Linked DNA regions of Homo sapiens. The protein of the gene in region 2 purifies or fractionates together with the protein of the main gene of each other region. This does not show direct contact. Each region holds a gene or a part of one and is shown on either strand. Other genes may lie near its edges.

What was found.
Region 1: the proteins of SYNM (region 2) and PACSIN1 purify together in Homo sapiens (affinity purification with western blotting, with the first as the bait; one study listed by BioGRID). This does not show direct contact.
Region 3: the proteins of SYNM (region 2) and SH3GL2 purify together in Homo sapiens (affinity purification with western blotting, with the first as the bait; one study listed by BioGRID). This does not show direct contact.

Annotation. Positions count from the first base shown.
Region 1 is NC_000006.12:34,464,876-34,468,875, reverse strand, and holds the start of PACSIN1 (protein kinase C and casein kinase substrate in neurons protein 1), read right to left. Parts: upstream 2,801-4,000; 5' UTR 2,606-2,800; intron 1-2,605. UniProt on the Homo sapiens protein: Plays a role in the reorganization of the microtubule cytoskeleton via its interaction with MAPT; this decreases microtubule stability and inhibits MAPT-induced microtubule polymerization.
Region 2 is NC_000015.10:99,129,006-99,132,726, forward strand, and holds part of SYNM (synemin), read left to right. Parts: intron 1-361; coding exon 362-3,721. UniProt on the Homo sapiens protein: Type-VI intermediate filament (IF) which plays an important cytoskeletal role within the muscle cell cytoskeleton.
Region 3 is NC_000009.12:17,760,535-17,764,255, reverse strand, and holds part of SH3GL2 (endophilin-A1), read right to left. Parts: intron 2,820-3,721; coding exon 2,747-2,819; intron 1-2,746. UniProt on the Homo sapiens protein: Implicated in synaptic vesicle endocytosis. May recruit other proteins to membranes with high curvature. Required for BDNF-dependent dendrite outgrowth.

The DNA.
Region 1 (4,000 bases), on a different chromosome or scaffold from region 2:
TACTCTGTGCCAGGCCATGGGGCCACCGGAAACAGCACACAGACTCTGCCCCCACAGACCCCACAGCCCAGCAGGGAGAGGACACTGCATGATGGGAGGGTTCCCAGGGGAGGCAGCCAGGCTGTGGGGAGGGGATCATGGGTGGGGTTCCCAGCCCAAGCTGGGGAAGCTTCTGGAGGAAAAAGGAGTCTCAGTGGACTCCCGAGGGTGAGAGATTTGGGTGGGAAGGAAGAGGGAGAGGAGGAGACAGGAACAGCCTGTGCAAAGGCCTGCAGGTGACAGAAGCCCCACTTGCTTGAGGAACTGAAAGTAGCTCAGGGCAGCCAGGGGGCAGAGGGAGGGCAAGAAGGGAGAGTCAGCCTGGGTGTGGGAATGGTGGCAGAGCCACGTTAGGGAGACTGCATGGCTGTCAAATAGCAATGCGAGCCATTGTGGAATGAATGAATGATTGAATGACTGAATGTCAACTCTGGAAAATAGCTGGCAACCTGAGGGAGGGGGTTGAGTCCCTTCTTGGGCTTTCCCTCTATTCCCCAGGACCAAAGAGCCACCCAAACCAGACAGTTCTCTTTAGGCCCCTCCTAAGCCTGGAAATCTTGATGTCCTTCATAGACACAGGCCTGTGGCTAAGCCAGAACCCTTGTTGGCAGCCTCTTCCTCTGAAGTGGGTTTGCTCCTCCACACACTAGGGTCATGAGACCCCTGAGAGCTTGCTATGAAGACCTTAGAGGCTGAGGAAGGCCTGGCTTGGGCCTTCCCAGCTTCCCTGATGTTGACCTGGATTTTCCCAAGGGCTGGGACAGAGGCAGAGACTCTGGTCTAAAGTTGGCACCCCGGGAAGAAAGTGCCAACCCAGCGGCCTGAGGAGAGCCAGACCTTCACATCAGGCCTTCCCTCAAGCCAGGACCAGGCCTGGACACTCAAACCAGGGGCCCATAAGACCCTCTGGAGCCAGCAGGTTGCAACACTATCTCCAAAAGGCATAGCTGCCCATCAACTCCAGGCTTAGGAAGGGCCTAGCCGGGCATGATGGCTCAGGCCTGTAATCCTAGCACTTTGAGAGGCCAAGGTGGGCAGATCACCTGAGGTCAGGAGTTCGAGACCAGCCTGACCAACATGGAGAAACCCCGTCTCTACTAAAAATATAAAATTAGCCGGGTGTGGTGGTGCATGCCTGTAATTCCAGCTACTCAGGAGGCTGAGGCAGGAGAATCGCTTGAACCCGGGAGGCAGAGGTTGCGGTGAGCTGAGATCGTGCCATTGCACTCCAGCCTGGGCAACAAGAGCGAAACTCTCTCTCAAAAAAAAAAAAAAAAAAAAAAGGAAGGGCCTACTAAAGAGAACCACCTGGTTTGAGTGGAGTGGCTCTTTGGTCCTGGGGAATAGAGAGAAAGCCCAAGAAGGGGCTCGACCCCCTCCCTCAGGTTGCCAGCTATTTCCCAGAGTTTACATTCACTCATTCAATAAGTCATGCATTCCACAAGATATTTTCTTGGTGCCAAACCCTGCTTTGGTGCAGGGGCAATGACAGAGATGAATCAGATTCCCAGCCTGAAGGTACTTCTGGTCTAGAAGGAGATGAACAAGACAAATAACCCAGCCACAAGGCAGTCCAAGAACATAGGGCAGGGGGCAAGGATCTCACCTGGGGTATCAGGGAAGCTGCTGGAGGGTGATGATTTGGACTTGTGATAGAAAGGCCAGGATGGAGGATGGAAGCAAAATCACTGACAGACAGTCCTGTTTGCACCCCAGCTGTGCCAGGGGCTGGGGCAATGTGGGTTATTTATGGTTGTGCCTAGAAATAAGCGGCCATATGTGTCACTGCCTATGTGGTGCAGACCTGGGCTGTTGTGGGTAGGGGCAGCTGGGGCTTGAAGCTGGGTCTGGCCAAGCTCCCGGGTTTGCCACCATGTCTCCTACACCCTGATGACCCTTTAACCTTTTCATAGCCTCTTGTAAGGTGAAAATAAGGGGCAGAGGCAGCTCCAACAGGCAGCAAGTGGCCTGGGGCTTGCAGGGGAGGGCAGTGCCCAGCAGCCCATGGCTTCTGTATCTGCGGGGCCTTTTAGCATTATCGCCTCCTTCTTGCCTCCTCCCCCCTCCCCGCTCCCATCCCAGCTGTGGGGGAAGGGGTAGGGGACAGAAGGAAATACCTTTAACCATAAGCCAGACAGGCATCAGCTGCTGTGTTTCTCCCCAGCCCACTCTGATCCATAAATAGCCTATGCACCAAGCTGGCACCAGCCCACCCACCCCTTCTGGTAGCAGTCCAGAGACCCGGACCGCCCGGGCCCAGGCCCCAGCTTCCCAAGGAACCTATTTCCGGCGCTTTTCCTGGGGTAAGGGCCTCCGATGCCAGCTCGCTCCCCCAAGGGACCCAGCGCAGTGGCATCCTGGCACTGCCTGGGTGATGCCCGCGAACTCCGTCCCCTGAAGGCATCCCCGAACGCGCACCCGCTTCTCTCCAGGCAACTGCCCAACCCTGCCCGGGCTCTGGCCCAGGGAGATGTCAGTCCCGGCGCCCACTTCCAACACGCACTCCCTAACTGGACACCCGCACACACAACCCCCCCGCCCTCTATTCAAGGGCCAGACCTCCTACCTGGGGGCAGGAGCTCCGGGGACCATCGGCGGCGACTCGGGGCGAAGCGGGACGTCTGGGGCCCGGCCTCAAGCCCGGCCGACTTCCCGGGGGAGGAGGGGGCTGGCGCTGCCGCCGCCACCGCGTCGCTCTGGGATCTCGCCGGGGCTGCGGGAAGGAGGAAGGTCAGAGCTGAGGCGGAGAGGGGGGAAGGATGAGGAGGAGGCGTGCACCGAGCAGAGCAGATTAGAGAGGCATTTTTAGCGAGCCAATGGTAGCGCGGGCAGGGCGGCGCGGTGGCTGCGCAGGTGGACGCGCCGCGGCTGCCGGGGAGGCAGCAACCAGTTTGGCAGGCGCCGGGGGTGGCGGGTGGCGGGTGGCGGGTGGGGTCCGGCTCCCCGCTGCTTCAGCCGACCCCTGCCCCAGCAGTCTTGCCTGGCTCCCTCTTCTGGGGGCTGCCCGCGGCCCCGCGCGTGCCGGGAGCCCTCCGGTGCGCCCTCCTCCCCAGCCCTCCCAGCTGGCGCGCTCGGAGCCCGGGATGTTGCTCCCTGCCTCTCTCCCCATCTCCCCATCGCCTTGGCCTTTCCTCCTCTCCCGAGCCTCGGCGTCCCTTGGTGCGTGCGGGTGCCTGTGTGGTGGGTGTGTTGAAGACGTGCGTGTGAGCTGACTTGGGAGCGACACCCCCTGCACCACCGCCCCACTGATGCCCACCCCTGCCCGCAGCTTCTGCCCTGTGACCCCATGGGGCGGGATCGCTAACCCTCATGTCCTAGTTCCAGCAGGACCGGCTGTCGCCAAAGCAAACTCCAGGCCATGTCGTTGGAGCTCTCTAGGGGGCTTGGGGCCTAATAGGGGACCCTCAACGGCCTTCACTCTTCCGAACTTGAGCCCTGAATGCTGCCTGGAGCCTGGACGCTGCAGGGAGGAGCGGGGCACATACCTATTGAAGGCCTGTTCTGTATCAGGCACTGATGAGGGGCTGGGCTGCAGCAGAGGACAGAACAGACCAAAACTCTGCCATCTCATAGTTCACATGTGTGAGGGAAGATAGATACTCAATATCAGCAGCTAAGAGTGTTTTGTTTGGTTTTTGTTGTTGTTGTTTTGTTTTGTTTTGAGACGGAGTTTCGCTCTTGTTGCCCAGGCTGGAGTGCAATGGCACGATCTCGGCTCACCACAACCTCCGCCTCCCGGGTTCAAGCGATTCTCCTGCCTCAGCCTCCCGAGTAGCTGGGACTACAGGCGCGAGTCACCACACCCAACTAATTTTGTATTTTTAGTAGAGATGGGGTTTCTCCATGTTGGTCAGGCTGGTCTCGAACTCCCGCCCTCAGGTGATCTGCCCGCCTTGGCCTCCCAAAGTGCTGAGATTACAGGCGTGAACCACTGCGCCGGGCCAAGAGTGTATTTTAAAGT
Region 2 (3,721 bases):
TAATGATTTCAAAATATAAGATTGTGAAATTTCAGCCACAAAAACGAGCACCTCTGACCTCTCTGGGATATGCATTGTGCTTTATGATTAATGTTAAGATGAGTGAGTATTTTAATATCAGTAACTGGAGAAACGTGTTAGGCTGAAGTATTTGTAGTGCTACATTTTATTGTAACAGGATTTTGTAAACTGCCAAAAAATAATTTGGGCACCAAATATAACTTATCTTTATAATGAGCTTTCTGTGGTAACAGTGTATATTTATTATGATGGAATGGGATTTGGCCTGCAACAATGCTTGTAGATGGAAAAGGGTAATGATGACTGTCATTTTAATGAATGCTTTGTTCAATTTCTACAGAATTCAGAAACAAATCCTATCACTATACCGACTCACTACTACAGAGGGAAAATGAAAGGAATCTATTTTCAAGGCAGAAAGCACCTTTGGCAAGTTTCAATCACAGCTCGGCACTGTATTCTAACCTGTCAGGGCACCGTGGATCTCAGACGGGCACATCTATTGGAGGTGATGCCAGAAGAGGCTTCTTGGGCTCGGGATATTCTTCCTCGGCCACTACCCAGCAGGAAAACTCATACGGAAAAGCCGTCAGCAGTCAAACCAACGTCAGAACTTTCTCTCCAACCTATGGCCTTTTAAGAAATACTGAGGCTCAAGTGAAAACATTCCCTGACAGACCAAAAGCCGGAGATACAAGGGAGGTCCCCGTTTACATAGGTGAAGATTCCACAATTGCCCGCGAGTCGTACCGGGATCGCCGAGACAAGGTGGCAGCAGGTGCTTCGGAAAGCACACGGTCAAATGAGAGGACCGTCATTCTGGGAAAGAAAACAGAAGTGAAAGCCACGAGGGAGCAAGAAAGAAACAGACCAGAAACCATCCGAACAAAGCCAGAAGAGAAAATGTTCGATTCTAAAGAGAAGGCTTCCGAGGAGAGAAACCTAAGATGGGAAGAATTGACAAAGTTAGATAAGGAAGCGAGACAGAGAGAAAGCCAGCAGATGAAGGAGAAGGCTAAGGAGAAGGACTCACCGAAGGAGAAGAGCGTGCGAGAGAGAGAGGTGCCGATTAGTCTAGAAGTATCCCAGGACAGAAGAGCAGAGGTGTCCCCGAAAGGTTTGCAGACGCCTGTGAAGGATGCTGGTGGTGGGACCGGTAGAGAGGCAGAAGCAAGAGAGCTACGGTTCAGGTTGGGCACCAGTGATGCCACTGGTTCTCTGCAAGGCGATTCCATGACAGAAACCGTAGCAGAAAACATCGTTACCAGTATCCTGAAGCAGTTCACTCAGTCTCCAGAGACAGAAGCATCTGCTGATTCTTTTCCAGACACAAAAGTCACTTACGTGGACAGGAAAGAGCTTCCTGGGGAAAGGAAAACAAAGACTGAAATAGTTGTGGAGTCTAAACTGACTGAGGATGTTGATGTTTCCGATGAAGCTGGCCTGGACTACCTTTTAAGCAAGGATATTAAGGAAGTGGGGCTGAAAGGCAAGTCAGCCGAGCAGATGATAGGAGACATCATCAACCTCGGCCTGAAAGGGAGGGAGGGGAGAGCAAAGGTCGTCAACGTGGAGATCGTGGAGGAGCCCGTGAGTTATGTCAGCGGGGAGAAGCCGGAGGAGTTTTCCGTCCCATTCAAAGTGGAGGAGGTCGAAGATGTGTCGCCAGGCCCCTGGGGGTTGGTTAAGGAGGAGGAAGGTTATGGAGAAAGCGATGTCACATTCTCAGTTAATCAGCATCGAAGGACCAAGCAGCCTCAGGAGAACACGACTCACGTGGAAGAAGTGACAGAGGCAGGTGATTCAGAGGGCGAGCAGAGTTATTTTGTGTCCACTCCAGATGAACACCCCGGGGGGCACGACAGAGATGACGGCTCGGTGTACGGGCAGATCCACATCGAGGAGGAATCCACCATCAGGTACTCTTGGCAGGATGAAATCGTGCAGGGGACTCGAAGGAGGACACAGAAGGACGGTGCAGTGGGCGAGAAGGTTGTGAAGCCCTTGGATGTCCCAGCGCCCTCTCTGGAGGGGGACCTGGGTTCCACTCACTGGAAAGAACAAGCTAGAAGCGGTGAATTTCATGCCGAACCCACAGTCATTGAAAAAGAAATTAAAATACCCCACGAATTCCACACCTCCATGAAGGGCATCTCCTCCAAGGAGCCCCGGCAGCAGCTGGTGGAGGTCATCGGGCAGCTGGAGGAAACCCTTCCCGAGCGCATGAGGGAGGAGCTGTCCGCCCTCACCAGAGAGGGGCAGGGTGGGCCGGGGAGCGTTTCCGTGGATGTCAAGAAGGTCCAGGGTGCTGGTGGCAGTTCCGTGACCCTGGTTGCTGAAGTCAACGTCTCACAAACTGTGGATGCCGATCGGTTAGACCTGGAGGAGCTGAGCAAAGATGAGGCCAGTGAGATGGAGAAGGCTGTGGAGTCGGTGGTTCGGGAGAGCCTGAGCAGGCAACGCAGCCCAGCGCCTGGCAGCCCAGATGAGGAAGGTGGAGCGGAGGCCCCGGCTGCTGGCATTCGCTTTAGGCGTTGGGCCACCCGGGAGCTGTACATCCCTTCAGGCGAGAGCGAGGTTGCTGGTGGGGCCTCTCACAGCTCGGGACAGCGCACTCCCCAGGGCCCAGTGTCGGCCACTGTGGAGGTCAGCAGCCCCACAGGCTTTGCCCAGTCACAGGTGCTGGAGGATGTGAGCCAGGCTGCAAGGCACATAAAACTCGGCCCCTCTGAAGTCTGGAGGACTGAGCGAATGTCATATGAAGGACCCACTGCAGAAGTGGTGGAGGTAAGTGCGGGAGGTGACCTAAGTCAGGCAGCGAGCCCGACCGGAGCCAGCCGGTCTGTGAGGCATGTCACGCTGGGTCCCGGTCAAAGTCCACTGTCCAGAGAAGTCATCTTCCTAGGCCCTGCCCCTGCCTGTCCAGAGGCATGGGGCTCGCCAGAACCTGGCCCAGCAGAGTCTTCTGCAGATATGGACGGATCAGGGAGGCACAGCACATTTGGCTGCAGACAATTTCATGCTGAAAAGGAGATTATTTTTCAGGGCCCCATTTCTGCTGCAGGGAAGGTTGGTGATTATTTTGCAACAGAAGAGTCAGTGGGTACCCAGACTTCTGTCAGGCAACTCCAGTTAGGCCCTAAAGAAGGGTTCAGTGGGCAAATCCAGTTCACAGCTCCACTTTCAGACAAGGTGGAGTTGGGTGTCATAGGAGATTCTGTACACATGGAAGGGTTGCCAGGGAGCAGCACATCCATCAGGCACATCAGCATTGGGCCTCAGAGGCATCAGACCACCCAGCAGATAGTTTACCATGGGCTGGTTCCCCAACTGGGGGAATCTGGTGACTCAGAGAGCACTGTGCACGGAGAGGGCTCAGCAGATGTGCACCAGGCCACTCACAGTCATACCTCGGGTAGACAAACCGTTATGACTGAAAAGAGCACCTTCCAAAGTGTCGTTTCTGAATCTCCCCAGGAGGATAGTGCAGAGGACACATCAGGGGCAGAAATGACATCGGGTGTTAGCAGATCCTTTAGGCACATTCGACTAGGTCCTACAGAAACGGAAACCTCTGAACACATTGCCATCCGTGGACCCGTGTCCAGAACATTTGTGCTTGCTGGTTCAGCGGACTCCCCTGAGCTAGGCAAGTTAGCAGACAGCAGCAGAACGCTAAGGCACATTGCACCAGGGCCCA
Region 3 (3,721 bases), on a different chromosome or scaffold from region 2:
AATGATTACACAAAATTTTCGTTTTGTTCTGGACTCTTCTGGGTAGTACTTACTCATATATGTATGTGGCCTGCCCATACATAACTGTTTTTCTGAAACCAACCTCGAATTGCCTGTAATGGCCTTCATTGTTCTTAGTGGCAGATGTCCATTCAACTCTCAAATAGTCACAAAACCATTATATTGGCAGCCAATTAGCACATGCAATATTGTATTAAAAATGTCATTTCTAAACATTCAGATCTTCTCAATTACCTCCTCCTTTGATGTTTTTTATTAAAATAAAAATAAGCCTTAATCCCACAATTTCCTTTCTGAATTTCTCTGGTACTCTCTGAAAGGGAAGGACCCTTCACACCTAAATGAAATGGAGCCTACCCTTCTCAGAGGCAGGATCGTGCAACGTGAAGTGCAGAGACTTAGGAGGTAGTCAGACCTGAGTTCCAATCTTGTCTTCATCCCTTCCTAGGTGTATGAATGGGAAAGTTCCTTAAATTCTCTGACCCTTGTTTTTTCCTGAATAAAATGAGGCTAGCGTACTGGATTAGTTTTCTAGAGCTGTCATTTCAAATGACCACAAACTGGGCAGCCTCAAAGAAAAGAATTGATTCCCTCACAGTTCAGCATACCGGAAGTCTGAAATCAAGGTGTCGGCAAAGTTGGTTCCCTCTGGAGGCTCTGAGAGAATCCTTCCTCATGTCTTCCAGCTTGTGGTGGTGGCTCCTGGCATTCCTTTGCTCGTGACGTGTAACTTCAACCTCTTCTCATTCTTCACGTGGCCTTCTTTCCTGTGTTTCTCTGTGTCCTCTCCTCTTCTCATAAGGACACCCATCACTGGTTCTAGGGGCCACCCTAAATCTAGGAAGAGTTCATCTCAAGATCCTACATCACTACTTACATCTGCAAGGATTATTTCCACATAAGGTCACATTCCTTATAAGTTTAGTTCTGGATGGACCTGAATTTGGGGAGACACACAATGCAACCCACCACACCTACCTACAACAGAGCACAGTTCCATTATACTCAGGAAAACTGATGAGCTCCCACTGATAATTTGTGTTACAATGAATTTTTAGTCTATTTTCATACTAGAAATTCTTCAACTGTTTTTACTTTATATGGAGAAAAATGGTTACTTTTAAAGATGAGACAATGCCTCATATACCTAGCACTGCACTGAAAATGCATCAGTGCTCAATAAATACTATATTCCTCCTCCCACTGCCTTTCTCTTAGCCCTACAACCATGAGTTACAAGTACAACTCGTGAAAATCCCAGGAAATCATGGAGTACTTCAAGGTTCTAGGCAAAGATAAAGACCAAAACTTCTTGCCCCTATATAATGATTTCTTGCGGGGAAGCAGGGCGAGCAGTTCTCTTTCAGAACTTGACCTATGACAGTGGTTTAAACAGTAAGGAATAAATGTGCATCCAAGAGATCTTTGCATCTCTGTGAAAAACAGTGGTTACCAAGAAGGTTCTGGGTAAAAATAAGAAACCTGATTTTTGCAGTGCTTTGACAAATTTGCTAAGCATTTGAAAATGTATCTAGACCACTGTCAGTTAAATTCCTGGTTCCTATAGCTTATCACATTTTCTTCCATATTTTCCTCCCTCACATAAGCTCATTTCTAATGTGTTTTATGAACAAAAACAACAGCAACAAATATCCAGAAAGTTATTCCTACATAGTCTGCTCATCCTCAGAATAGCAGCTGGGCTGGTCATAGGTGAATAAGGATGGAAGGAAGCTGCAGCCAGCAGCAGGGGGCATAGAAAAGGAGCCAGCACTTAGTACAGCACACACCTGCTTCCTCTCAGCCCACACCCGCCCCCTTTTTTTTTTTTTTTTGATCACTTGTCCACTATTGCTCAGTATCCAAACTCATTGGGGCTGAAGCAGTTGTCTGCACCATCCTCTCTAGGACCATAAAATACACGGAACCCCAACCTGAAACTTGCAAAGAAACTAGCCTCAAGATTAAGGGGTATTCCAAATATTCACACATCTCACTTAAATACAACCAGCCTCACTTCCCGTTTCCGTGCCCTGTGGTTAGAAACTGACACACAGGAATGGTAATGAGGAGGTCTATCAGGTAGGCTGCTTTGCTTTGCTTTGCTTTGCTATACCTAGTGCCTACCGAAACTGCCCCAACTCTGCCTGGTCCTCTTATCAACATATAGCTCCGTTATCTCTATTACCACTTCTTTTTCTTAGAGTATAACAAGTTAGCAGGAACCAATGCTGATCTGTGATGTGCTTGGAGAAGAATCAGAATCAAGATCAACGCTCTGAAGACTTTGGTGATGCCCTATGAAGAAACCCTCTGTGTTTCATGAAAACGATTCACCTCCCTACTTTTTCACATCTTCTGGGAATCATTATATCTTACCTTAAACTATCCTAATTTTCCTTCTTACCATCTCTTGAAAGTTCAAACTGATAACAGTTTATAGCTACTCTGATATTATGTGTCACCTGAACTGTTTGCATACATTATTTGTTAAATATACCACAGTCAGATAAAATACCACAGATCTTCCAGTTACTTCAATGTGAGCTTTAAAAAGCCCTTCTCCCCAGTTAAAATGTGCTATCCATGAAGTCGCTAACCTCTCAGAAAAGTGGACCGAGGAAGCAACACCAAAAGAAGAAACACACCAAACTTAAAATGTCTATCAAAGAGAAACTAAAAGTTACCTCGAGGGATCCTTTAAACATATAAGATGATGCCTTACCTGGATTGGGTTGAAGGTATTCAATTGTTTTAGTCATTATTTCCATCACAGCCCTGCTGGTGACATCCACTTTCTGAAATGAGAAAATAAGTGCTCTAAATGACAAAAATGATGAGCTTTAGAATACCGGTTTTTGGTTGAGTCTGTATACAATGGCGGGGTATGCAACAGAGCCCCGGACAAGTCCCGCAGTAGGTGAGGGAGGCTGAGACGCGGCTGGAAGTCATGCTGACACTGTACTCAGCAGTGGTCTGCCAAGATGTGGAAAGCCCGTTTATCCAAAGAAGAAGCTTGTAGTTTCCTAAAATTTGTTTCAAAATATAATTCATTACCTTCTGGTGAAAATAAGGTGAATAAAATGAAACATATTTTGTCCCAGAGGCATTTATTGGATGCCTACAGTGGGTCAGGCATGGAGGCAGATTTTGCTGCCCTCAAGAAAGAATCATGCAGCATCAACTCTGCTTATTCAAGAAGTGGGGAGCTTTTTATTTAACTTCTAAGAACATCCTAAAAATATAAAATCTTGAGCAAAGACTTCTAGTCTGTCCTTGAACTTTTGGTTAATGCTAAACAAAAATCTTGATGCTAGAGTCTATCCTCCAAATTTGTTCTATCCTCTAAATTTCTAAATTTGGAATGGTCAGTGTTTGCCTTCAGCATCTCACCGTGTTCTCTTTGTCAGGCCCCTCTCCCCACTTGAAAGAGGTCATGGAAGGTGCTCACTGCAGTGCTCTCTGTCTTTCTCCAAGAAATCCTTTTCTTATCAGCATCTGTGGGCCTCCTATTCGCCCTACATGGTAAATGACTAATGAGAATAAATGCATCCTCCTATTCAAGGTATGTACATGTAATATATGACATAGGTATAAATGAAAGTGATTAAATTTTAATGTAGAAATTTAGGTATCAATTAAGTCCACTGGAGAAATTTTCTGTTTGTTAAAAGGCTCCCCCTTCAACTATGAGAAACTT